Linked DNA regions of Homo sapiens. The protein of the gene in region 2 purifies or fractionates together with the protein of the main gene of each other region. This does not show direct contact. Each region holds a gene or a part of one and is shown on either strand. Other genes may lie near its edges.

The links.
Region 1: the proteins of MAPK10 (region 2) and MSN purify together in Homo sapiens (affinity purification with mass spectrometry; 2 studies listed by BioGRID and IntAct, with this or other methods). This does not show direct contact.
Region 3: the proteins of MAPK10 (region 2) and WDR62 purify together in Homo sapiens (affinity purification with mass spectrometry; 2 studies listed by BioGRID and IntAct, with this or other methods). This does not show direct contact.
Region 4: the proteins of MAPK10 (region 2) and CCT6B purify together in Homo sapiens (affinity purification with mass spectrometry; 3 studies listed by BioGRID and IntAct, with this or other methods). This does not show direct contact.

What each region holds. Positions count from the first base shown.
Region 1 is NC_000023.11:65,733,651-65,740,676, reverse strand, and holds part of MSN (moesin), read right to left. Parts: intron 5,411-7,026; coding exon 5,247-5,410; intron 3,883-5,246; coding exon 3,752-3,882; intron 3,500-3,751; coding exon 3,339-3,499; intron 2,153-3,338; coding exon 2,060-2,152; intron 1,708-2,059; coding exon 1,483-1,707; intron 949-1,482; coding exon 784-948; 3' UTR 1-783. UniProt on the Homo sapiens protein: Ezrin-radixin-moesin (ERM) family protein that connects the actin cytoskeleton to the plasma membrane and thereby regulates the structure and function of specific domains of the cell cortex.
Region 2 is NC_000004.12:86,098,054-86,105,079, forward strand, and holds part of MAPK10 (mitogen-activated protein kinase 10), read right to left. Parts: intron 5,192-7,026; coding exon 5,133-5,191; intron 3,980-5,132; coding exon 3,841-3,979; intron 3,165-3,840; coding exon 2,999-3,164; intron 1,233-2,998; coding exon of another isoform or gene 1,081-1,232; exon of another isoform or gene 549-1,080; intron 543-548; coding exon 471-542; intron 396-470; coding exon of another isoform or gene 388-395; exon of another isoform or gene 1-387. UniProt on the Homo sapiens protein: Serine/threonine-protein kinase involved in various processes such as neuronal proliferation, differentiation, migration and programmed cell death.
Region 3 is NC_000019.10:36,064,888-36,071,913, reverse strand, and holds part of WDR62 (WD repeat-containing protein 62), read right to left. Parts: intron 5,957-7,026; coding exon 5,899-5,956; intron 5,658-5,898; coding exon 5,487-5,657; intron 4,609-5,486; coding exon 4,471-4,608; intron 4,087-4,470; coding exon 3,904-4,086; intron 359-3,903; coding exon 198-358; intron 1-197. UniProt on the Homo sapiens protein: Required for cerebral cortical development. Plays a role in neuronal proliferation and migration.
Region 4 is NC_000017.11:34,937,444-34,944,469, forward strand, and holds part of CCT6B (T-complex protein 1 subunit zeta-2), read right to left. Parts: intron 5,464-7,026; coding exon 5,353-5,463; intron 5,201-5,352; coding exon 5,041-5,200; intron 3,179-5,040; coding exon 3,096-3,178; intron 2,271-3,095; coding exon 2,174-2,270; intron 1,888-2,173; coding exon 1,740-1,887; intron 1-1,739. UniProt on the Homo sapiens protein: Component of the chaperonin-containing T-complex (TRiC), a molecular chaperone complex that assists the folding of proteins upon ATP hydrolysis.

The DNA.
Region 1 (7,026 bases), on a different chromosome or scaffold from region 2:
AGCTCACTTTAGACCGGCCTATACTCCTACAAGGAATTGGGGTAGGATCTTCTACTCAGCCTTGCCACAATAGAATGGCCAATGCCCTTCTAGTATGTTTGGTGAAGGTCTTGAAGGCACCATTTCCCCCATCCACCCTGGGGAGAAATTGAGTCCCTAAAGTCAACGACAAGGCTTATTGAGGCTGAGTTTGCAACAGATCCGATCTGGGAGGTAGAAACAAAAATGACTGAACATCTTTTTATCCCCCAATCGTTACAAAGCCTAAATAACTCTAAACGGGATGGGAGGGCAAATTTTAGGTCAGTTGACATCCTGGAGAAGATATCCTAGGTCCTGTCTCATTCCCTAGACCGCATAACACTCCAACCGTGTAAATCTCAGGACCCTGAAGAAGACAGTGGTAGGGGAGAGGAGGGGAGCTAGCTTCCAACCTACTCCACACTTGACTCCCATAGGACAACAGTAAGTGTAAGGGCATTTGCAAAATCAAGTGGAAAGTACCTCTAGGCTGGAGAAGTAGGATATTCTAGCCATACAGATTCAATGGAACAGAGAAGAGAAAGGAGGTTCCATTGGCACCATAGTGAGCCATTCATTTGCCCAGGGAAGTGGGTGGGGGCTAAGGGGCTAGGTTTGGTCCCATGGCTACATTAAATGCTTGGCATGACTCCAGGGCTGCTCTAGTTAGTGGCTCCAGCACAGTATGAGTTAGGTGAGTTAGGTGTAGGAGTGTGGGGACAAGGAAAAAGGGAGGAGGGGTCCCTAGAGGCTGGGTGCCCATTACATAGACTCAAATTCGTCAATGCGCTGCTTGGTGTTGCCCTGCCGGATCTGGCGCAGGGTCTTGTATTTGTCTCGGCCCAGTCGCATGTTCTCAGCATGGATCATGTCATTGGCAGTCTTCTTGGACTCATCTCTGGCATTGGCCAGCTCCGAAGTGAGGGCCTGTGAGGATGTATGGGAACACAGAGGTCAATGGCTTTCTCTCATTTTACCTCCTGTTATTTGACCAGACTTCCCTTCTCTTCTGTTTCCTTCTTTCTTCCTCACCCTTTCTCTCTATATATAAATATTGAGAGTCATTTCCAACTCTGTTAGAACTGCAGTGGGGCAAGAATATTAAAAAAAAATAAATAAACTTAGGGGACCAGTTGATAATGGGTATCCTTTAAGAGTAGAACAACATACAAAAGATTCAGGTGGGAATTTTGTCAGCTAGATATTTTCTTAATGTAAGAGGTGAATGGAGTGAGTGGGAGGTGGGGCAGAGAGAAAATCTCAAAAAGGGAAGAGATAGCCCAAGGTCTGATTAATAAGTGAGAGGTGCCTATCCTTAAAGCTGTCACTTAAGAACGGCTTGGGCTCCCATACAACACTGGGACAGGATCTTATACCTATCCCCCATGATGGTCTAGGGAATGCCATGGGCTACTAAATCAATGCATATAGTTTCCTTGCCCCTTGGCCCTACTTGTATACCTTCAGGTGCTTCTGCACACGCTCATTCTTCTCTGCCTCAGTGGTACGTTCCTCCTCACTGCGGTCCTTGGCCATAGCATCAGCCCGTAGGTCAGCACTAGCCTCTGCCCCATTCTCATCCTGCTCATCCTGCTCATTCTCAGCAGGCTCTGCCACATGAGGTGTACTCATGGCAGTCTTCAGCTCAGCACGGGTCTTCTCCAAGTCTTCCTGTACCATCTGGGCCTGTCCAGTGACAGAAGGAGAGAAAGACTGTCAGTGAGACCAGTTAAACTGTGGCATCCTGTATATGCCTAGAACGGTCTGGCAAGAGGCAGGCACCAGGTAGGACAAGGCACTTCATCTGCCTGATCCTTAGTTTCTTCATCCATAAAACAAGAGCAATTGTACCAACTTCCTAGAGGTATTAGAGAACTCCAGTAAGTATTTGACGAAACCATGAGTGCCTTCTCCCATGCTGCCTGCTGTGGGAAGTATGAAAGAGGGAGGGAGCCAAAACATAAGGAATCTAAGGAGCTGTTACCTATGCATATGGCACCCATTCCTTCAATGCTTTGCTTTAGGCCCTGTGTCTTACCTTCTGCTGCCACTCCACAGCCTCACTCTCCTTCTTCTGTCGGGCCATCTCCAGCTGGGAGATTCGAGCTGTCAGCTCTGCCATTTCCAAGGCCTACGGATAAATTGGAAGCCTGTGAGAGCTGGGCCTTCTGGTCCTCAGGACCCAGGTGTCTTCAACCCAAGTCCCCTGGGGGACTAGTAAGGGACCTACTGCTCCACTTGCTTGCTGCCTCAGAGACTCTTTTACCAGACTACTTCATTCCAGTCCCATCTTCCCTGACCACCACTTCCTTTTAAGTCAGAGCTCCCCCACCTAGACTGTAGGCCTCTTGAAGACAAACAATATGCCATCTCTGTCCCTTCCTCATTATCTCTCCCCCTGCCCCTCTTGGCAAGTATGCAGCTGGGGGCCTCAGTAAAGCTTTGGCCATCATTGGGTCACTTCCTGAAGTGGCAGATCCTTTCCTGATATCCTAGAATGCTCAGGATTCGACTAAGAGTCTTCCCAGGACAAGTACAGGAAAGACACTCAAGTGTCACAAAGCTATCTGAACAAGGAAAAAAGCTTATGCACACCTTGGGTAAATCTCCCATGACAGCTTCCTCATGAGAGACAGGTCTTGGTTCCCTCTATTCCCACCTCCAACAGTACAAAGGAAGAGTATATGTCAAGGAGTTTGGACCACAGGTTCTTAACTTCTGAGTCACAGAACCCTTGGAAACTGTGATGAAAGTATGGATGCCAAATGCCCCAAAAATGCATAGACACATAGTTTTGCATGTGATTTCAGGGAGCAAAGCTTTCAAACAGAGGCAGAAATGGGTGGGTTCTAATCCTTATTTAGCTACAATTGTGTGATCTTTGGTGAATCTCTTCCCTGAGCTCTAATTTCCTTATCTGGGATATTATCTCATATGAGGTTAATCCCATAGGGTTACTGGGAAGAAGAAATAAGTAAGGAAAAGGGAAATATTCCCAACACAGCAACATACAGCAGGAGCTCAAATATGAGTCCCTTTTGTTCTTTTCTCCTTCCCTTTCCTTTGCCAGGTCAATCAGCTCAGATACCCAAGAGTTAAGAAAGTGAACAGAAACTAAGGGTTAGGGAAGACTGCAAAAATTTCTGGGCCACACTAGTGACTTCTCAGCTTGCTTCTGAACTAGTTATTTGCTGGAGGCCCATGGAGTGGTAGCCTGCTCTAAAAAGCCAGCATGTAAGCAAAAGTAGCTATAAGTAAGTAGGCAGACAAGGAAGAAAGTTCAGTTCCCATAATCCCAGCCCACCCTACAGCTTTACCAGCTGTTCCTGAGTCTTTTTCTGGTCCCGGGAGGCCTGCAGCAAGGCCTCCTTGGCCTCTTCAGCTTCTTGACGCTCCTTGGCCAGCTTTTCAGCCTCGCTCTGGGCACGCTTCCGTTCCTGCTCAAGTTCCAGAGCCCTACGGGTCTGTTCTTCCAGTTCTGAGCAGAAAAGGAGGGGAGAAGGCAGTGAAGAGCACAGAGATAAAGACGACACAATAGCTTCGTTCCTGGAAATGATCCACCCCAAGACAAAGCTGGCAGAAAGTTCTGAGCTCTCTTCTTGCCCATTCTTCTTCTAGTCTGTAGCCACACCTGAACTACATTGTCTGAGTCTACAGCTCAGGCAGAAGGTTCTCCAGCTCAGAGTTAGGCCTGGAAAAATCCAATCTCCAAGGTGACTCCAAGCCTCACCTTGCTGAGCCTTCTTAGTCTGTTCCTCGATCTGCTTCAGCCTCTCCATCAGCTCCTCCTTCTCCCGTTCAATCTTCTCTTTCTCCTTCTCTGCCATTTCACGCTTCTTCTTCTCATTTTCCAGCATAGCACTAGGGAAGGAGATAAAATGGATAGAACAGGATAACAACGCTCCACAAAAGCCTGGGGAGGCCAGGCGCGGTGGCTCACACCTGTAATCCCAGCACTTTGGGAGGCCGAGGTGGGCAGATCACGAGGTCAGGAGATCGAGACCATCCTGGCTAACACAGTGAAACCCCGTCTCTACTAAAAATACAAAAAAAATTGGCTGGGCATAGTGGCATGCGCCTGTAGTCCTAGCTACTCAGGAGGCTGAGGCAGGAGAATTGCTTGAAGACAGGAGGCGGAGGTTGCAGTGAGCTGAGATTGCGCCACTGCACTCCAGCGTGGGCAAAAGAGCAAGACTCCATCTAAAAAAAAAAAAAAAAGCCTGGGGAATTCCAAGGCTTGCTGCCTCTGGGTCTCTCAACCCAACCTTCCCAACACACTTAGGGATTGTGAGTTTGGGCCACCCTCCCTTACCTCTATACCCTTGTCCTCATATCATAGCCCCACATAGGCCAGTGTACACGGGGCCCTGTCAATGTACCCCTGAGTCAGGAATCCTAGCTCTCCCACCAACCCACTGGGTGACCTTAGCTATGTCACTGCTTTGCTCTTGTTCCCCTATCTTGAAAATGGTCCAATAAGACCTGCCCTATCCACCTTGTTAGGGAGACAAGTTTTGGCTCTGTGCTGGGATGAAGTGCTTCAAGTCTAGTAATCTCTACGGCTAGTGCATCAGTCCTCAGGTCTAACACTGCCTGCCCTAAAGCCCAGCTCTAGGCTTCTTTTTCCCAGAGTCTGTTACAAATCTGGAATAAGTATTTGCTTTTGCTTTTTCTTGCCCTAGCACCTCTTCCAGGAACCTTCTTATCTCCCTTGGCTAGGTATTCTCCATCTGGGCCCTCAGAATACTTGGCTTACCCTTCTCCCCATCCCTCTTCTATGTTTTTGTCTCCATAGCACTTCTTAACCATCTTATGTACCACATAATTTGCTTATTTATTATGTTCGTCTCCTCCCCACTAGAATGCTAGCTTCACAAAAGCAGAGATTTTTGGTCTTTTCTTATTCATTGCTCAATAAATATTTATTAAGTGAATGAATGACATGGCCTTTGTACCTTGAGTTATGTATATATTGTTTTCCCTCTCTCTGCTACTAGACTGAGTAGACTGTGAGGTCCTACAGGGCAGTTTCCTGCTAGATCCAGCTCTGTAAAAACTGCCCCTCAAACTTGGTAGATTTTTTCTGAATAAATGTGAATATTGGTGTCTAACCTCTCATCTATGAAGTCCTAGGTTGGCCTCATGTCCTGACTTAGCATGCAGGGCACCTTTGAGAAGCTTCCTTGCCCCAGCCCTGGCCCCCCACATCAGTGTGCAGCACCTACCGCTCCATCTGCTTCTGGTGCTTCTCCTCCCGGGCCTGTGCCTTCATCTGCTGCACCTCAATGGTATCAGGCTTGCGACGGCGCATGTATAGTTCATGGTTCCCCATGCACAAGGCCAAGATCCGCTTGTTAATCCGCAGCCGGGGAGCATAGAAGACGAAGTCCTGGTGGGAAATCAGCAATCAGAAAGAATTTGGAGGGACAGGTGAAGGTGATCTTCTGCCTTCTGAAAAGCTAAATCCAAAAGCACTGGAAAGAATATTTAATCTGACCTCCTGCACTACAGATGGGAAGACTAATTATCAGAGTGGTAAAGTGACTTGCCCAGGGTTAGACAGTAGACAGACCCAAGACTAGAAACCCAGGTTTCTTGACTCTGAAACCCATGTTCTTCCCATAATTTCTTTCAATCTTTGCTTATGAAACCACAATTTCTTTCAATCTTTGCTTGTGAAAGCATCCTAAATTACTCTTAATCAAGTTGAAGGATTCAAACTTTCTCTGCTAATTAGGGAACATGCTAGGTCTCAGGTGACCTCTTTTGGAAGCCAAATGACCCCTGAATAATACCCTGGTGGGTGCAGTATGGGTGGCTGGACTGTTTCTACAATCTCCTAAAAGCAAATCCTAGACCCAGCCCCTTAAATCCTTTTTGGAACAAGGCAGGCTGTAAATACATACATGAATACATAAATCTCCTGATCACTGCTTGTCCTGGTTGTTGTTTTTAAAATGAGCCCTTGATCTCAGCTGGCTTTGTTACTTAACTTTTTCTGATAATAGTTGAGCACAGCAGCAATAAAAGAAAACACACAAGAAAATCCAGTGAGTTTGAGTTTGTTACTACAAATACCACTGGACCGAAGTCACCAGCTGATGGGCACCACCATCTCCTCTGCCACTGACCACACACTGCTACTGTCTCATATAGCTTGGGGTGCAGGTATAAATCCCAGCTCTACCATTTTTAGCTGTGTGATCTTGGGCAAATCACTCCATCTCTCTAACCTCAGTTTTGTCAGCCATAAAATTAGTATGCTACTTAGTACCTACCTGACCATGTTGCTGAGGGTTTAAGGAGACAACATGTGTAAAGTCCCTAGCAGGGGAAGTTCAGGCACCTCATGGCTGGAGAAGAATCACTGAGCCTTCATGAAAAGGGTCAGGCTCAGCATTGTCACTGGGCCTTGTTGGACATGCAGTATCCCAGAAAAGGGGACACTCAGCTCAGTTTCCTAACCTACCCACAATCACCAGCTGTCTGGTCTTGTCAGCTGCAGGCTACTGAGTGGGTAAGAAGCATGGCGAGTGTGTTAGAGAAATGAATGAACTTAAAGCACTTTTTTGGTCTTGGATTGCTCTGGAGAAAAGTCTGAGAGGGCAGCAGTAAAGTTCTACCAAGAAGTCTGTAGGATCATCTTCAGATTTGGACTTTGGCCACAGCCCTTTCTCCACAATAAAAAAAAAAGAAGTCAAGGGCTGGGCATGGTGGCTCACGCCTATAATCCCAGCACTTTGGGAGGCCAAGGCAGGCAAATCACCTGAGGTCAGGAGTTCAAGACCAGCCCGGCCAACATGTTGAAGCCCTGTCTCTACTAAAACTACAAAAATTAGCCAGGCATGGTGGCATGCGCCTGTAATCCCAGCTACTCGGGAGGCTGAGGTTGTAGTGAGCCAAGATTGCACCACTGCACTCCAGCCTGGGCAACAGAGCGAGACTCCATCAAAAAAAAGAAAGAGAGAGAGAGAGAGAGGAAGGAAGGAAGGAATCAAATATGTG
Region 2 (7,026 bases):
TTAGTGTCGAGTAATTTAAATCAACAAAGCCATAGACAGAAGCTTAGAATGTCAGCAAGGAGAGCAATTATTATGCCTAAATATTGTAGAAGCACAAAATAGTTTTAGAAAGGAGATGGAAAATGACTTGCAAATAGTGACTTATTTTGCTAGTTATAAAGGTAAATATATTTTAATCATTTGGGATCTGGTAGCCTTTGTTATTAAAGAAAAATAGCATTTCTATTTTTAGTTGCAGGCAAGAAAGTAATTTTAGAAGAAAAAAGCCCATTGAAATTTAATTAAAAGAAATCATTGTGGTAGGCAGTCTTCAGTACTGGTCAGATTATAGAAATTATCACTTTTTTATTACAATAACACCACTTACCCAACTTTTTGCTTCTATCTTTACTCTCCTGGTAAAATCATTATGTGTTTAAAAGGGAGAGAGAACAAAACAGGTAAAGCTGTAGCAAAAGGTACAAGGATACAGTCCCTTCCTGGAAAGAGGATTTTGTGGCGAACCATTTCTCCCATAATGCATCCCACAGACCATATATCCACTAGAACAGGAGAGAGAGGGTAGTGAAGAAAAGGGAGGAAAGTAAAGTTAACTAAGATAATTGACTTCTGAAGGAGGAGGAAAAAGAACAGTTTGATTAAAAGTACAATTTTCACCTCCCACCAAAAGTTGGCCAAAATGTGAATTCAAACCAGCGCTATGCTATTACATAAACAGTGTTTAGTATGAGAACTCAAATTAATGTTTAAAAACCCATTACTTTGTGGGTGCCTTACATTGCCTCTCAGCAGTGCCACAAAGTGGTGACATTGGTGACTGAGAAAAGCAATAGCTAAACCAAAAGTATCTCCATGGCAGGTGACAGCTAAAAGCCACCAAAGGGTTTTCTGTGTCATTTTCCGGATGCATAGAAAACAATATTAACTTGTAGAGTTGGCTATTTTCATTTTCTATTCTATTCAGTTACAGAGAATAGGGCAACAAGAGACCACCTTTTTTTTCAGGGGGCCAGGGGGCCGGGGCAAAACAAGATAAATTCAACCAAATCCAATAAACCAGGAAATGACTGGAACCATGGTTTAGAGGCAAAAGAATTGGAATTCCTGGTATTTGGGACTTAGCTTTTCCTTCAGAAGTTTATTCTTGTAAATAAACATCAGTTTTAGTTTCCATTTGAAATATTTCAAGAAAAAAGACATATGATGAATTAGCACATGTATAAAGGAGTCATCTGGAAGGAAAGTGAAAAAAGTATTAAAGGTGTTAAAAATTGTTATGTACATATATTTATTTCCAAATTGTCAAACTTGTTAGGAAAACATGCTTTGCCTTCTCTTACCAATCTTTACCCCTTTCCAACTTGCTTTTCATTATGGACAAAGGGAACTTTTGGGCAGAATCATTTGGCCGAATTGTTCCATGGGGAAGGAAGGCGGGGCTAGGTGCAGGGGACAGCAGGGCATGCCTGATGTGGGAGCAAGCAGGTTTTTCTGCATGATAACCTTCCTCCCATTGGTGGGAGGGCAGCACCAGGGTGCTAGGCAGGCCTCCTCCATGGACTTAGAGAAGTCAAAAACCTAAGGCAGCAACTTGCAATTCCTTCTAGTGAGGGAAGGGAAAGGGATTTTAATACCAGCTATTGGTAGTGCCAAGATCTGAAAGCCCAAATAGGCAAATTCAGACCGCCCCACCCCCCAGTCTCCTGTACATTCTTGATTCTTGACTTTGTTTCTCCTTTGACTTTTTAAAAATAACTCGTGAAGAAAGTATAAAAATGTCTTCTTTTCTGAATAAATTAGATGTGGTATTGCCTAGCAAGGAGGGCTAGATTCATCTCTTCTGAGTCAAAAGGTACCAGAACTCCGATATTGCCCACCAGGGTGAACCTGACCTTTGTAAGAGGTGACTTTTTAACTTCCTCTGTATAAATGCATACATACATTATCTGTCTTCTAATCTAAGAGTATACAAAGAAGTTTCTGTAAACTTCAGTGGCCAGGGAATTTTCACAAAAGTACCCTGTAGCACCTGTACATAAAAATACACTGATTATTTTTATAAAACTTATTAATACAGACTGCTAAAAACTAAATAGAATAGAATATAAAAATAAATATTAAAGATACACTGAATACATATACAATCCTAATTTAAAACTATTTTAATTCCTAAGTATATTGAATATGTTTTCAATATGGTGCATTACTTGTAAGATATAGTCTCATCAAAATAATACATTGCAATGCTTTCTAACATATTTAATAAATCCTTAGTTTTAATCAACTACACTCAATTGTGATACATTTTTAAGATTCCTTCCATAGCCTTCATTTTAAAGTGTTCATGAACATTAAGTTTTCTTTATGAAAGCAGTAGTGTCAAATTTGACATTTTCCTTTTTTACGATTTTTGGAATATATAAGGATTTATTAGGCAATTGCTACTCTAAATGTTTCTTACAGAGCAGCTTAAATTATTACAGAAATTCTTATTCAGTTTAAATAATTTGGATTATTTCAAAGTTGTCTATGAAGATTTTCACTCTAAGGATTTGTGTCACTTTTTTGCTTGTCTTTTTCTAGAACTACAGCCATCAGTCTGAGATACAACATAAAAGCCACATGGCTAACTGTGGTAGATTCCTTTCTGCTTTCACACTCATGCTCAGCTGAGCTGCAACCCAAATAGCAATTTTTCTCAATATCTAGGCACGTGTGCTAATCAGCATCCGCTTGACTGTTTAATCAGACTCCATTTACAATTCTTTTTCACTATTAACATTTAGTGCTCTTCTAGCAAAACTGACTTCTCAATAACATCCTTCACATTTTTAATGAGTGTTTCTTACCAGTAGTATTAAAAAAAACCCTGAATATGCTATCTGGCAGCCCTACTTTATAAAAGCATGTACATAAAAGAGAACATTCCCCTTGGCTATCTACAACGTGCACCCGTTTCATTCATGGTTTTGATGCTGCTCTCCCGAAGCATCCCTACCGTTCTCCTTGTAGCCCATCCCCAGGATGACCTCAGGGGCTCTGTAATAACGTGTCACCACATATGGAGTCATCATGAAGCTTGTGCCTGCTGTCCTGGCCAGTCCAAAGTCCAGGATTTTCAATGTGCAATCAGACTTGACTACAATGTTACTTGGTTTTAAATCCTAACAGTAAGGATAAGGGAAAAAATTAAAAGCCAGTATCAAGTGAAATGTTATTTCCATTGACTCAATCAACATAGCCATTTTGCAGTAGCACTGATGAGGTCCCCCTTGCCTACAGAGCTCTAAATAAGGCAAATGATTACTGCTACAAATAAGTTAACTATTAGTTTTTGGAAAGTGTTTTAATCCCAGAAAAGAATTGTATTATCATTTTCACAATTTACACTAATCTTGGGAAGAGGTTTTAGAAAAAAAAATATTTATTGTCTTCTGTTAGGTTTCTCCTTAGGACAACATAAATCTTTCAACATATATATCATTTCTAGGCCTGACAGAAGAACAGATCAGGGAAGCTGTCTTTATGCTGCCAGAAACATCTATGGAAATGAATTTTCTTATTTCAGTTGCACATATGACTTCTGCCAATCAAGGAGCTGAAAGCATGAGGCTTCTAAGAAGCTGCATCTCAATGAGCCAAAACATAACATTGAACAAACTCAACTACAATATAACTAGAATTTCCTTCTACAATTAGTGAACTAGGTGCTAATTCTAGTATCAAAGAAATGAGGAAGTATATTATATTTGACCAATGCCCCCCGTATAAAGAAAATAATCTACAGTTACTCTTCCTCTTAAAGCATTTGAATTGTAATCCTAGAGAAGGTGTTCTTACCCTGTGAATAATTCCAGCAGAATGGAGGTGCTTAATGCCACACAACATTTGGTACAGCAGGTAAGACATTCGCTCATGGTCTAATTCCATCTGAATCACTTGACATAAGTTGGCATCCATCAGTTCCATTACTAAGTAACTAGAAGGGTGAATCCACAGTGTTAGTTCCAGATCACAAGATCTATGAAGTCCTTTGATTTAGTCAGAATGCTCTCCTAACTCTGTAAGTCTTCTGAACTTCTTAGCTCTGCCTTTGACTTAATCAAGACTGAGCATTTCCAGGTATTGCATGTGTGTTAGCTATACGAACCCTACCAAAAGGTTGCTAGTAGAAAAAGCATTTATTAATGTCTGGTTCATGTCCACAGATTTGTTACCTTAATTTTGCTTTCACTTTCCCCTGTATTCCCTCAACTCTTTTGTGAATATTATAATTTCAAATAAGAAAAAAATTAAGGACAGCTTCTTCCATTAAATTCAATGTATCTGTATTAAAGACAAGGTGCTAGGGAATCACTTCCTCTCCTCCATCTGTTGTCACTACTGGGTAGACTTTGCACAAAATCAATGACACTATAAAGATAGAAAGAATAAAGATAATTTTCACGTCCCTTTTATTACTATTTCTTTTTGTTTGTTTGTTTTGAGACGGAGTCTCGCTCCGTCACCCAGGCTGGAGTGCAGTGGTACGATCTCAGCTCACTGCAACCTCCGTCTCCCGGGTTCAAGCAATTCTCCTGCCTCAGCCTCCTGAATAGCTGGGACTACAGGTGCATGCCACCACACCTGGATAATTTTTGTATTTTTAGTAGAGGTGGGGTTTCACCATGTTGGCCAGCATGGTCTTGATCTCCTGACTTTGTGATCCACCTGCCTCGGCCTCCCAAAGTGCTGGAATTACAGGTGTGAGCCACCATGCCTGGCCTTATTACTATTTCTTCAGGTAAATTAACTCATTGTAGAAAGTTTGTGGAATCTATTAATAAATATAAATAAATAAGCCTTCCCTGAGTGACCAAGAGCATGGAACAACAAAGTATATAAAGCCACAAGGCCAAAAGGAGGCAGAATGTCTTTCCAGGAAGTAACCCCACAAACAGAATCTTCTTTACATATCACTGGACCCCTTTCATTTGACCCCACCTCTTACCTCTCTTTGAGCAGTATAAGGGATTTCAACTCTGTGTGTGTGTGTGTGTGTGTGTGTGTGTGTGTGTGTGTGTGGTGTGTGATTTTCCCTTGGGCTATCTGAGTGCTGTGCTCTCCCTTCCTTCATGAGTTTTGTTACTTACACATCTTGGAACTCCTCCAGCGTTTTCTGGGGTGTGAAGACATTTAATAAACTAATAATCTGAAAGAGAGTGGAAGGGACAGAGGAAACGAGAGAAAGAAAAAAGAGAGAGAATGTATTATTTTTAAATTGTATTTCAACTCAAAGTCACTCACTAGTGCTATGGCAGAAATGGAGAAGTTGGAAAAATGTCTTGAGCTGTCTCAGAGGACACAGAAAAGTATGCTCAGAAAGAACAGATGATCTGTCTTCAGGTTAATAATGCAGCTAAAAAGCTCAATTCTTGGGCAGAAGCAAGAGTCAGAGAGATGCATAATTGTTACACTGCTTTCAAGTGTGATTCCTCGTGGCAGAATATGGGCCTTCGGGGGATTAAACAAAAAAGGAAGAAATGCCATGTGAGGAGAGAGGTGGCAGTAAAACACTCAGTGAGACTTAGCAAGGGGATACTTCTCCAAATGAACAAAGTTGTGTTCTACTTCATGATTTTTTTGTGTTGTTACTTTATATTTTTTTTTACTTCTACCTCACACTCAAATATTAAACTAATGCTCCAATAATATGTGTGGGGAAAGGTGCATTCTAGATGATATCAATGATGGATTTAATAGAAAATTATTTTAAAGTTATTTAAATTCAGTTAAAAGCTTTTTGTTTCCTGCTTTATTTTATATATCAGCTAGTAAAAAAATCTACCTTCTAGTATAAGCAAATTTTGTAAAAACCCCTTGTCACATTTCTCAGTAGAGTACATACATCAATAACTCAAAATGTTCTTCCAGCTAAATATTTGGTACTAACGTGCCAGTAGGAAATGAATATAAAAATATATAAAAATCTTATACTCACAAGATAGTTGCAACTATTTTATAAAAATTAGATAAGTACAAGGTCAAGATTTAAGCAGCTTCAAAGCATCAATCAATGAATTTCAGTAAACTTTATAAATGATATAAAGACATGTGGAGTAATAAACATAAAACAAAATTAGTTTAAACACCTGAGAAATTGACTCAATTCTATGGAATGTTTTATGTCTCACGTAGTTTTAACTGATTGAGAAATTATTGACAAAAAATAACCACAGTACCATCCAATATTTTCTAGTATACATATATATGGCAATGTTGTAATATAGTTTTAAAAATACAAGATCATCTCTTCTAAAGCAACCTTGCAGTGTGGAATATTCATATAGAAATAAAATTGTTTTAAAATTATCTTTATAACTTGTGATTAAAGTGCCATGTTATTCTGTGTACTCAGTGCTAGTGAGTGTTGAAAAATGACTATGAAGTACACCTTTCATTGGAACATCTACAGTGGGTCTGTTTCTCTAGGACTTTATCAATCTCATAAAGTAATTTATTTCATTTTGCTATTTGTTCAAACAAAAATATTAGAGACTGTGTATACAGCACACATTACATCCACACAAACATTCACATGAACACTACTTAAAAATGGAAAAATGCTAACCCAGATCACTTAGTGAACAAATAATCTAGATAATTTAAAAAATATAGAAAATAGCATTACAATTTTAAATAAATCAAGATTTATTGTTTTAAAAGGTAATTTATCAAGATCTATTCCCTACTGTATGTTCTTATTTTCCCTTTTCCTATGACCTTGTTTTATTACTTTTTACTCTTCGAGAATTTCTCTTCTATCCTTCATTTGCTCTCTTGTAAATTCTAATTCCTACCAATAGTCAATTTTAAAAAGGCATCTGTAGAAGGAGATTATCACAGCTATAAAATTTCCATTTTAATCCAACAGTTTCCAGACAGGAATCTCAGTTCTTTTATTCCAGCATCTTGAGACACACAGATGTGAATCTATGTTTGTCAGGCCCCACTAGTTCCTGGAATTGAATATTTATTTTCTTTTTC
Region 3 (7,026 bases), on a different chromosome or scaffold from region 2:
CTACCCAGCCTCACTTCTCACTGTGAGGCTTGCCTCGGAAGGCAAGGACTTTTCTGCTTTGTAATGCCCAGGGCTGAGAGTCATGATGGGTATTTGTGGGATGGACAGACAGATAGATGGATCTGGAAGCATGGATGAATGCCAGTGGACAGACTCTGGGTGGGCCCCTCCCATTCCCTCTCCCCACAGGGCAGTACCTGGGCTCCAGGCCCTGTGCCACGTCTACCCCAAGGTAGTGTGGCTTGGGCAGGTTGGCGAGGTAGTGCAGGCTATGGGCCTGGAAGATGCGGACTATCCCATCTGTGCAGCCACAGAAGATGAGCTCCTGGCTGACACAGAGGCAGGAAGACAGGGAGACCTGTAGGGGCAAAAGGGACCCCAGTGGATTTGGTGCTTCACGTGGCCTGGCCCGGGGATATGGGGACTGACAGAGCAGCCTTAGGCCTCCAGAGAAGACTTACAGTTCCTTGGGTCTAAGACACCCATTTTAGCATATTTTAAGATTTGTGAAATCAGGATATAGCATACTGCTGCTATTGAAAGACATGTGCCAGCAGGTAGGCAGAGGCATGAACGGAAACAGAATTGTCACTGCTGTCTACAGAGAAACGTAGCTGTGTATGGAAAATACCTGTTCAGCAGACTGCAACTTCAGGTAAGTCACTTGTAGTAACAGGGTTGAATTTTAGGCTTAAATTTTTTTTTTTTTTTGAGATAGAGTTTTTTGTTGCGCCCAGGCTGGAGTGCAATGGCACAATCTCGGCTCACTGCAACTTCCACCTCCTGGGTTCAAGTGATTCTCCTGCCTCGGCCTCCAGAGTAGCTGGGATTATAGGCGGCCGCCACCACACCCAGATAATTTTTTGTATTTTGAGATGGGGTTTCACCATGTTGGTCAGGCTGGTCTTGAACTCCTGACCTCAGGTGATCCACCTGCCTTGGCCTCCCAAAGCATTGGGATTACAGATGTGAGCCATCGCGCCCAGCCTTTAGGCTTAAATTTTATTCCCTTTTGCTTACAAACAACTTCATAAAGACTGTACTCCAAAGCGGTACAGAAAAAAGTTACAGTATCTAGAAAGGACTGTCTATCCTACTAGGAAGTGCTAGACCTCTAGATACAGTTTAAGGAGTTTTTCCAAATCTACAGGGACTTAATTTATGAGTCATTTAGTGCTTAGGAAATAAACATCTATCTATTGAAAGCTTTTCACTTGCTTGAAAAAGAGAAAATGATGTTTAACCAACTAGGACAGAGATAAAACTTGGAACTCTTCCACAAGCCATTAACCTCGAAGGTGATCTCCAGAGTGAGTCACAAAGGCAGGCCAGGAACAGGAGAGGAAACCACAACGCTCGGGCGGATAGCCAAATGGGCAACTGATTCCAGATGGGAAAACAGCTTTGACTCAAACCTTCAGATACTAAAGGAAAGAAGCTCTGCAATGTATCGATAGATCATGCTTTAGTTTAAAAGTTTATGGCCGGGCGCAGTGGGAGGCCAAGACGGATGGATCACTAAAGGTCAGGAGTTCGAGACCAGCCAGGCCAACATGGTAAAACCCTGTCTCTACTAAAAATACAAAAATTAGCTGTGCGTGGTGGCAGGCACCTGTAATCCCAGCTACTTGGGAGGCTGAGGCAGGAGAATTGCTTGAACCTGGGAGGTGGAACTTGTAGTGAGCTGAGATTGCGCCACTGCACTCCAGCCTTGGCAACAAGTGAGACGCCATCTCAAAAAAAAAAAAAAAGTAAAAATAAATAAAAATAAATAAAAGTTTATGTATTTTGTGTAGTCTTTTTTGACTGAAAAGTTATTAAATCAATGGTACCTCCAATTTTTAAAAAATGCAATCCTCCTCTCCCTCTCCTTCTCCCCACGGTCTCCCTCTCCCTCTCCCCACGGTCTCCCTCTCCCTCTCTTTCCACGGTCTCCCTCTGATGCCGAGCCAAAGCTGGACTGTACTGCTGCCCTCTCGGCTCACTGCAACCTCCCTGCCTGATTCTCCTGCCTCAGCCTGCCGAGTGCCTGCGATTGCAGGCGCGCGCCGCCACGCCTGACTGGTTTTCGTATTTTTTTGGTCTCCACCAAACACAGGGTTTCGCTGTGTTGGCCGGGCTGGTCTCCAGCTCCTAACCGCGAGTGGTCCGCCAGCCTCGGCCTCCCGAGGTGCCGGGATTGCAGACGGAGTCTCGTTTACTCAGTGCTCAATGTTTCCCAGGCTGGAGTGCAGTGGCGCGATCTTGGCTAGCTACAACCTCCACCTCCCAGCCGCCTGCCTTGGCCTCCCAAAGTGCCGAGATTGCAGCCTCTGCCCGGCCGCCACCCCGTCTGGGAAGTGAGGAGCGTCTCTGCCTGGCCGCCCATCGTCTGGGATGTGAGGAGCCCCTCTGCTCGGCTGCCCAATCTGGGAAGTGAGGAGCGCCTCTTCCCGGCTGCCATTCCGTCTAGAAAGTGAGGAGCGTCTCTGCCCGGCCGCCCATCGTCTGAGATGCGGGGAGCGCCTCTGCCCCGCCACCCCGTCTGGGATGTGAGGAGCGCCTCTACCCGGCCGCGACCCTGTCTGGGAGGTGAGGAGCGTCTCTGCCTGGCCGTCCCATCTGAGAAGTGAGGAGCCCCTCCGCCCGGCAGCCGCCCCGTCTGAGAAGTGAGGAGCCCCTCCGCCCGGCAGCTGCCCCGTCTGGGAAGTGAGGAGCGTCTCCGCCCAGCAGCCGCCCCGTCCCGGAGGGAGGTGGGGGTCAGCCCCCGCCCGGCCAGCCGCCCAGTCCGGGAGGGAGGTGGGGGGAGTCAGCCCCCGCCCGGCCAGCCGCTCCGTCCGGGAGGGAGGTGGGGGGTTAGCCCCCGCCCGGCCAGCCGCCCCGTCCAGGAGGGAGGTGGGGGTCAGCCCCTGCCCAGCCAGCCGGCCCGTCAGGGAGGGAGGTGGGGGTCCGCCTCCGCCCTGCCGCCGCCCCGTCCGGGAGATGGGGGGTGCCTCTGCCCGGCCGCCCCTTCTGGGAAGTGAGGAGCCCCTCTGCCCGGCCACCACCCCGTCTGGGAGGTGTACCCAACAGCTCATTGAGAACGGGCCATGATGACGATGGCGGTTTTGTGGAATAGAAAAGGGGGAAAGGTGGGGAAAAGATAGAGAAATCAGATTGTTGCTGTGTCTGTGTAGAAAGAAGTAGACATGGGAGACTTCATTTTGTTCTGTACTAAGAAAAATTCTTCTGCCTTGGGATGCTGTTGATCTATGACCTTACCCCCAACCCTGTGCTCTCTGAAACATGTGCTGTGTCCATTCAGGGTTAAATGCATTAAGGGCGGTGCAAGATGTGCTTTGTTAAACAGATGCTTGAAGGCAGCAGACTCGTTAAGAGTCATCACCACTCCCTAATCTCAAGTACCCAGGGACACAAACACTGCGGAAGCCCGCAGGGTCCTCTGCCTAGGAAAACCAGAGACCTTTGTTCACTTGTTTGTCTGCTGACCTTCCCTCCACTATTGTCCTAAGACCCTGCCAAACCCCCTCTGGGAGAAACACCCAAGAATGATCAATAAAAAAAAATAAATTAATTAAAAAAAAATGCAATCCTCTACCAGCCAGAGTGCTCAAAGGAGAAAAGAAATGTGAAGTAGATCAAATAGTCATGGGAAAACAACTGTCACCTTGAGCCCATTTCAGGGTACCAAGCACCGTGCTCACTGCCTTGCCTATGTTATCTCACGTGACTTCCTTATCAGCTCTGCGGGGAGGGCAGCAGTACTCCCATTTTACAGATGTGGAACCTTAAGCTCAGAGAGTGGGCGTCATTCACCACTAGTCACATAAGCAGAACCTGTGTGGTCAATGCTGATGAGCACCCCTGCAGACACATATCACGAGAAAGAGTCTGTCCAGCTGATGGCAGAGAGGGAGGTGGTACCTTCAGGTTGATCCACTTCTCCAGCACCCTCTTCTCATTGAACTGGCAGAGGAGGCCCGAGTAGGACACACAGAAGGTACTGCCCGCCATCCGGCCCCGACCGCAGGCCACACCACAGAAGATGTTGTTGTGCAGCTCGCCCAGGATGCCCGAGCGCCCTACAAGGGGCACTGTGCTCGTCACCTGGAGACACAGAGGGCGTAGTGAGATACTTGTCCACACAGCTGGGCCCTGCATGACCAGATGATAGGACACAACAAAACAGGAGAACTCTAAGAAGCTCTTCCAAATGGAGAAGGGAAGAAAACACTAGAACCCTGCCACTCTGGACAGAGGGGCTGGACAGCAGCAGTCCAAGAATGAGAGCTGGTCCCAGGGTCAGGGGGTTCCTGGCAGGGCCTGTGCATCAGCACCCTGAGAGTAGGCCCAGAAGCAGCAGCTGGGCCCCTGAGAGGCCAAATGGCCCGAGACCGCTGCCCTCAAATCTCAGGGAGAAACAGGAGACCATGCTGCCACCGATGGTGACTCCCTCAGGGCCTGGCTAAAGGGGCAGGGACAGAAACTCACCTTTGTCTCAGTGGAGACTTCCAAGAACCAGAACCTCACATGGCGGTTCCCAACAGTGACAAAATAGCTGCTGTCCTCTGAGAAGGAGAGGGCAATGACTCTACAAGATACCTTGTTGGAGGCCACTACGATGTCTTTCTGGAAGAATAAGTGCAGAGAAGCTCATGCCAGCACTCATTCCACTGGACTGTTTGTGCCTTTGCCCTCAGGCTGGAACTCCCTGCTCGTCCCCACTCCAAGTCTGTCTTCCTGGGACCCTCCAGGGAGCTGCTGTATGGGGAAACCTATGTGGGGCACCCTGCTCATTCCTCACCGACAGAGGAAGGGACAGAGGCTTGGAATGGTCCCCATGGGACAGTATGTTCCAGAGCTCTCTCCAAGGGTCTAAGCTCTGCAGCCCACACATGGTATTGGGGACAGTCACGGCTGGGATGTAAGGACAACACAACCTATGGCTGTCACAGATGGGGCTCCTGCTCTGGGCCCTGCCCTGAGCCCTTCACAGGATAACCCATGAAATTTCCTCAATCCCTCAAAAGCCCCACGAGGGAGGCGCTTCTCCCCAACCCTACCAGGCTCAGAGGGGGAGATGTCATGTGCTCAAGGTCACATAGTGGGTTATGGGCAGAGCCAGGACTTGGTACCCACTTCTGCCAGCTCCACAGCTGTTCCAAAGCCCAGCCTTCCAGTGCTTATCAACTCATTAAAGTCTCACAACTCAACAAGATAAGTACTACTATATCCATCTAACAGAGGAGGAAACAGACTCACAGAGATGTTAAGTCACTTGCCTAAGGTCACAGCTGGTCAATATAAAAATATGTATAATGCTTCTAGCTGGGAGCCTGCCTTGTGCCCTACAATAAGGGATCAGCATGTCACAGGTGCTCAATAGCTGTTATCTGTTGGGTGAGTGAGCACTTTACTGCGTCCTCTCATGTAGCTCTCCCTGTGCCCAAGACATAGGATGCTGTGGCAGCTGGCTGCCTGCCACAGGCCTGCTGGTCGGCTCTTACCTTCCAGTCCCAGACGTTGAGCACCATGTCATGTTGGTAGCCCATGGACACGATGTGCTTCATATTGGGTGAGAAGGCCACACACGCCACACCATACTTGTGGCCTAGCATCTCCGCCACCTGATTCTTCTCCTCCACATCCCAGATGCGCACAGCAGGCCTATGCCCATTCTAGGGAAGGTGGGGTCGTTACTGCTGCTGGGCTCTGTACTGGGCAGGGCTAGAGGGTTGTCAAGGCCGAAGATGGCATTGCCACAGGATGTGCCCAAAAGCCACCTCCCCCATCTGCTACAGGGCTGTTCTGGCCCAGGAAGGAGCTATTCCAGGGACTCCCAGGCCTGCCGGGAGCAGAAGGAATGGCTTCCAAGACCCCCCAGCCCCCGACTCCCACTCAGTCACGATCACGACTCACCTCCCCTGTCACTATGTACTTCCCATCAGGGGAGAAGGCCAGAGCACTGAGAGACTTCCTGGGGATAAAGAAAAGAGCTGATCACTGGTTCCGCTGAGGGTGGCCAGCCAGACCCCATCCTGGCGACTCTGATAGGACTCTGCCCTCTTCTGCCTCCCAAGCCTCGGAAGAGGCCAGCAGAGGTGAGCTCAAGCAGCTCCCACAGAGCCAGTGCCGCTGGTGTGCCCAGCAAAGCACACAGAGAAATGGGGGTAAATGCAAAGGCCCCTTCCGCCCTGAGACACCAAACCCAAATGGAGTAGACACTGTATGCGGACCCTGCTTTCTTCTCCCTCTGCCGCAGTGGGTATCCTAAGACCCTATCCACCCTGTAACACTGAGAAATAGAGATGCAGGAAATGGTACAGGCCTGGCCTAACTAAACGGGTGGTGCTGATGGGAGGATCCTGGCAGGCATCACATCAAGGTAGCCTGCAGCCTGTGCTCCACTGCTAAATACTCAAGGTGTTCTGGAAAATCCATAAAGAGCCAAAATGTTTCTGATACTCCTAGCTAGCCTGCACAAGCACTGAATGAACAGGCTAGCTCGTAGGTTTCTGGCAGCAAGATTCACTGTTCCCAGATTGTATGGTTTCCTTCTACTCCCTTCTCTCTTTTAATCTTATTTTTACCTTTGTTCCTTAACAATCTAATAATTGTCTCCCTACGTGAGATGGTAAATTGGTGTGTAGATAACTAAGTAAATGTCGCTAAGTGAGACTTTGGCAACTTCATGGAATATTCATCATCAAGTCAACCTGCTTCCCAGGCTTCCCGTGGCTCCTTACTGCAACAAACAGGGCAAGCTGCCTCCTGGATATCCACTCGCCTCTCTTTCCTTACTGACATAACCCCAGTTTTATGCTTGCAACTATGCAGGTACAGCTACATGACTTAGTCTGGCCAAGGAGAAGTAAACTGACATGCTGTGTGGGACTTCCTGAAATACTCGTCAAAGGGAACCCTTTGCCCTGCTTCCTACCAGTTCCCCTCCTGAAATACGCACACGACAGCCAGAACTCCATCTTGGGCCATGAAGTGACTTCAAGACCAGAAGCCTCACAATAAATGGGGTGGAACAGGAGAGAA
Region 4 (7,026 bases), on a different chromosome or scaffold from region 2:
CACGAGAAAAGGCAATTCGGTGGTGAAAGTAAAGTCTTTTCAGCAAATAAGACTAAAACAATCTGATACCTTTATATGAAAAAAATGAACTTGTATCCATACTTGCACCATATACAAAATTTAACTTAAAATGAATCACAGACCTAAATGTAAAACATAAGACTGTAACACTTTTAGAGGAAAATCTTTATGACCCTAGGTTAGGTAAAGATTTTTCAGATACCACACCAAAAGCATAATCCATGACAGAATAAAAATAATAAATTAGACTTCATCAAAATTAAGAACTTCTCTTTGAAAGGCACTGTTAATAATAAAATAAGCCACAGAGGAGAAAAATTTGCCAATTATATATCTGAAAAAGCACTTGTACCCAAATTATATACAAAGAACTCTCAAACTCAACAATAGTATACTAACACAAATTTTTTTCTTTTCTTTTCTTCTCTTTTTTTTTTTTCTGGAAACAGGGTCTCACTCTGACGCCCAGGCTGGAGTGCAGTGGTGTGATCATAGCTCACTGTAACCTCAGACTCTTGGGACTCAAGTGATATTCCTGCCTCAGCCTCCTAAGTAGCTGGAACTACAGGTACAGGCCACCACGCCTGGCTATTTGTGTGTGTGTGTGTAGAGGCATGGTCTTGCTATGTTGCCCAGGCTGGTTTCCAACTCCTGGGCTCAAGCAATCCTCCCATCTTGGCCTCCCAAAGTGCTGGAATTACAGGTGAGAGCCACTGTGCATGGCCAACAATCCAATTATTTAAAAGGGCAAAAGATTTAAACAGAAAATTCACCAGATATACAAAGGGCAAATAAACACATTAAAAGATGCTCAACATGGGCTGAATGTGGTGGCTCGTGCCTACAAATCCCAGCACTCTGGGAGGCTGAAGGGGGAAAACTGCTTGAGGCCAGGAGTTCAAGACCAGCCTGGGCAACATAGACAGAACTCATCTCTACAAAAAAAAATTAAAAATTAGCCAGGTGTGGTGGCATGCACCTATCGTCCAGCTGAGGTGGGAGGATCACTTGAGCACAGGGGTTTGAGGCTGCAGTGAGCCATGATTGTGCCACTGCACTCTAGCCTGGGTGACAGAGCAAGACCCTGTCTTGAGAAAAATATATATATGTGAGGTTTGCAGCCAGGCGCAGTGGCTCATGCCAGTAATCCTAGCACTTTGGGAGGCCAAGACAAGTGGATCCCTTGAGCCCAGGAGTTCAGGACCAACCTTGGCAACATGGTGAAACCTCATCTCTACCAAAAATACAAAAATTAGCCAGTTTCAAAACCTGGTCTCAAAAGAAATAAATAGATTAAATAGATTAATAATAAAAATAAAATTTAAAAAGACTTAAAGGCCAGGCATGGTGGCTCACACGTGTAATTTCAGCTCTTTGGGAGGCCAACAAGGGCAGATCGCTTGAGCCCAGGAGTTCGAGACCAGCCTGGCCAACATGGCGAAACCCCATCTCTACTAAAAATACAAAAAATTAGCCAAGTGTGGTGGTGTGTGCCTGTAATCCCAGCTACTTGGGAGGCTGAGGCAGAAGAATCACTTGAACCTGGGAGGCAGAGGTTGCAGTGGGCTGAGATCGCACCACTGCACTAAAGCCTGGGCAACAGAGGAAGACTCTGTCTAAAAATATACATATATACATACATAGGTGTGTGTGTATATATATATACATATATACACACATATACATGAGGTTCATATCAATCACAAGAAAGAGCTTACCATCTTCAATGGCATTTTTGATAGCACGAAGTCCATCTCTTATGGCATCCTTGACTTGTGTGAGAGTATGCTTATTTGGTCCTTTAACCAACAAGGTAACAGAGCAAGGGTTAACACACTCCTCAATAAAAGTGAACTTTTCTTCACCCTAAAGGGTGGCACAAAAATATATAACTTTAATATTTGATGTCATTATAAAATCAACAATTTATACTAGAATACAATCTTCATTTGAATTTTTCTTATCAAGCATAACTAAGGGAGTTAAGTTATATCTGAACTCTTAACAAACATTTAGGTAAATAAACTGTAAAATCTGTTCTGTGAATTAGATCTCAAAACACAAAACATGAAATAAAAGGTCAAGTAGTATTTTTCTTTAAAAAAGGGGGCTTAGTATTCACTTTATAACCACTGTTCATAGAAATACTCACTAATGTATACTCATACACAAGACCAGCATGTCCCAAGCAATCTACAGTGAGATCTTCAAAAGAATTCACGGCCATTCCACCACAAGCAAGAGAGAGTCTGAAATTACATATATGTCACCATAGCTTGATTATGGAGAACATTAATACTAATTTCTCAGAGAGAAGATATCTAATGCAGAAGACTGTATTGTTACTGTATTGTATTGTTTTGGGTTTTTAATTGTCTAATAAAATTGTCTATATTTATCGAGTACAACATGATGATGTTTTTAAATATGTATACACTGTGGAATGGCTAAATTGAGCTAATTAACATACATATTGCCTATGTGAGGCTTGATTTAGCCATTTGTGTGATAAGAACACTTAAAATCTACTCTCAGCATTTTTCAAGAATCCAACACATTGTGCATTCTCGGGTGGGTTTGCAAAAGATTTTTAAAAAGAACAATATATTGTTATTAACTACAGTTGCCATGTTGGACAATAGATCTCTTGAATTTATTCCTCCTAACTAACTGAAATTTTGTATCCTTTGACCCACATATTCCCAGTGCCCCTCCCCTCCCACTGCCCCAGCCCCTGGTAACCGCCATTCTACTATCTACTTCTATGAGTTCAACTTTTTTAGATTCCATATATAAAAGTGAGATCATGCTGTATTATGTTGTATTGTTTTGTTTTTAAAATCTGTTTTAAAAAGATAAAAACTTTCCTTATACTTCAACAAAGTTCTGCAGTAGGTTAACAACCTTGCTTTTTGACAGTTCAATTATTTACTGAAACTAAAAACAAAATTTGGATTTTTTTATGCCACTGTTTTGTTCAACAACATTTACACATAAGCTAAAAGGAAAACACATGGGATAGTTTCCATTTACTCTGTTAAAAACTTAGGATATATAATTATCTGCAAGCTTACCTTTCCATATTTCTTCTTTTTGCTCTGCGAAGAGCTACTATTCCATGTTTTGCAAGAGAATCTAAGGAAAATGGATCAATTCCCTATAATCAAATTAACATAAAAATTATAAACATGTTTTAAACCAGTATTTCTCAAACCTTTTGGTCTCAGCACCACTTTACTCTCTTAAAAATGATTAAGCACCCAAAAAGCTTTTGTTTATGTAAGCTCTATCTATAATATTTGTATTATAAAAACTGAGAAATTTTTAAAATATTTATTAATTCATTTAAATAATAAGCCCATTTTATGTTAATACACATAACATTTTAAATGAAAATTTACTACACTTTTGAAAACAAAAATATATATAGTGAGCTAGCAGTGGCATTACTTTACATTTTTGCAAATCTCTTCAATGTTTATCTTCATAGAAAACAAATGGATTCTCATATCTCATTCAGTATTCAATTTGGAATGATATGTTATTTTGGTTCAAGTTTATGAAGAAAATCTGGCCCCACACAGATAAATATTGTAAAGGGAGTAATATTTTAATAGGCTTTTCAGATAATTATGGAAATTCTTCTTTGATACTATACCAAAACTCAGTAAGTAATAGTTTCTCAAAGGTTAGTTTCACTATGGAACCATAGCAATGAACTTTTCATACTATCTCACATTAAAACACATTGCTGTAACTTGCACACTGAATGGATTATTTATCCATGTATGATTTTATAAAAATCATGCATTTTTAGTCATGTAGATAGCATCAGTTCACTGAGTTAGGCAAAGTTTCCACATGTTGACACATTTCATATATAAAATGTTGTGTTATACATGTAGAAACTGTGTCATGTTATGCATGTGGAAACTTTGCCTATCTCAGTGAACAAAAACTCACATTTGTTAATATCACTACTATTATCAGGAAAGTCTTTTAAGTATTGGAAAGCTGTCAAGTTCACATGGCAGATACAAGTTTTCTGAAATTCTAATTTTTTAAAAAAGTTCAAATGTTATTGACAACAAATACTGTCAGTTGTTTTAAGTCACAGAATTTCCTCATTCATTTTTGAGAGAAATCTACCAAATACCCATATCTAGATAACCACAGTTTGTCTGTCAGTCATTCTTCCAGGTAAAAGTGGCATTCCATGAAAAAGTGGCTAGTTTACCTTGCAATTTAAACAATTACACAAGTGCTCTCCTTCAAGACAACCATCATATTTTGGTATGCAATAGAAGAGCTTTGAAGTTCCCAGCCCCATAATCCCAACACTTTGGGAGGCCAAGCCAAGAGGATCACTTGAGACCAGCCTGCACAACATGGCAATACCCAGCCTCTACGAAAAAACTTAAAAATTAGCCAGGCATGGTGATGCACACCTGTAGTCCTGGCTACTTGGGAAGCTGAGGTGGAAAGATCACTTGGGCCCAGGAGGTCAACGCTGTAGTGAGCTATGATGGTGCCACCCAAGCACTCCAGCTTGGATGACAGAACAAGACCCTGTCTCAAAAGAAAAAAAAAAAACAGTGCTTTGTGCATACTTCATATTTTGTCACACATAATAATAAAAGGATGCATATTTCAGAATCAAAATTTAATAAATTAATAAGTTTTACCACTTCATCAAGACACTCTTAAATGATACTGCCTTTTTTTTTTTTCACTGTAAGTTTGCAGTGGTATAGCAATAAAGAATGCGATGACTACTAGTATAGTTTGGTGCTACTTCTTTGACTTGTACTAAGGTGCCAGCAGTTTTACAGATTGCTTTTGCAGCATCATTGCAAATGTCAACACAATGTAAAAGGTGTAATTATTATTATGAAAATAGTTTTTGACCTCACAGACTCTCTGAAAAAGTCTTAGGGATTCTTAGGGGTCCACAGACCACACTTCAAGAAATGCTTAAGAACATTTACAAATAACTAAAATCTAAACTTTCTTTCTCACCTTTTGATTAATGACGACAAATCCTTTATTTGACTGAGCACAGACTTTGTCCTTCAGGTCTATTATTTTTTGTACTCTATCTTCAATAAATTTTCTTTCAGCTTTTACCAATTTCTCTTTCTCTTCTGCAGTCTTATAAAAGAAACCAGAGTTCACCTCTCTAAAAGATTAATAAAAACCAGCTAGTAAAGGCAGGAGGAAAAAGGAAAAAAGATAGAAGTAGTCTACACCAAACATCTGGAAGGAAAAAGAGATTTTAAAACACCTTTAGAAAAAAAAATTCAAAAGTTATAAAGAGAAAGTAACACGCACGTTTTTTCATATTCCAGTGAAACGTTGCAAATAAGGATAAATGCATCTTCTACTCGCTTCTTCATATCTGGATGACGGGCACCATGATCCAAAACTAATCCTTGGATCAACCTATTAAAAATATTAATGTTTCTTACTTTGAATATATACTCTAAAATTTGGTATAAAATTATCATTGTACTATTAAAGTTACATCAATACTTCCAGGACACACATTGTTTCCTTGTACCAATTTTAACAGTTTTTGGTGTTTTTGTTTTTTGTTTTCAGAGATGGGGGTCTTGCTATGATGTCCAGGCTGGCCACGAACTCCTGGGCTCAAGCAATCCTCCTGCCTCAGCCTCCCAAGTAGCTGGGACTAAAGGAGTGCACCACCTCACCCACCTCCTTGCATTGACTTTAAACCTAACATATAATTAGTAAAATTAGGAAAGAGAATCTACTTTAACACAGTGTGACTATGAAGTCACAATAAAAAGTCAAGCCAGAATTATTTTCTAAGTTATGTGATTCAAAAATATGACACAGCTTATCAAGTAATGAAAGGTACGTATACAATGAGTTTCTTAGGAACATTTATTCAAAATGATTATATGGAACAACTAAAAATTGTTAACCTAAATGTCCAACAATAGGGTATTATTCAGCAAATAATGACCCAACTATTTGATGGTTATAAAAAGTATGTAATAACATGGAAAAATATTTATAGGGCTAGCTGATAAGCATAGAATGACAAATTGCATATGAAGCATGCCTATAACTGTTCTTTTTAACAACAGACAAGGAAGGGGAACATCACACACCGGGGCCTGTTGTGGGGTGGGGGAAGCGGGGAGGGATAGCATTAGGAGATATACCTAATGTTAAATGATGAGTTAATGGGTGCAGCACACCAACATGGCACAAGTATACATATGTAACAAACCTGCACGTTGTGCACATGTACTCTAAAACTTAAAGTATAATAAAAAATATAAATAAATAAATAAATTTAAAAAAAAAAACAACTTGGCATTAAAAAGAAAAAAAATGGGAGGGACCTAAGAGTAGGGGTTATGCCTGGGTAGTAGGAATATAGATGATTTGGAAAGGAGGTGTTTCTTCCTGTTTTCCAAATAATCTTTCAAGAGTCAATATTTTTATAACTTTATAAAATTCATTTACAAAACATTCAGGGGATGGAATTTCTACTTATGAATCCTTTATAACTAATTTTTGTTATATATTTTTAAACTATTTTAGTTCAACATAATTATAAGGAAGTTTTCAAAATTTTACTTTAACTAGATTACTCCACCTCTTAACAGAATGTAAACATATCTAGAAACAATAACACTATGTTCAACATTCCTCACTCTTCAAGCCTCCTTCACTTTCCTCCCTCCCTACTGTCAGCAAATGACATTGTTTCTTTGAGAAAATAGAAACATTGTCCCATTACTACCTCTACCAATCCACTTGCACTTGACCCTGAACCTCCTACTACTATGAATGAGCTGTCCATGTTCCTCTCTATGGGTAGCCTCTCTACTTGTGTACTGGATTCCATTTCCCTCTCTGTTCTTGCACTGTCCCCTAGTCCCCTATATCAATTCTCACCTAAAGAACCATCCTTACCAGCATACAAACTTGCAGTAACAATTCCTATCATTAATACAAAAAATCCTTCTC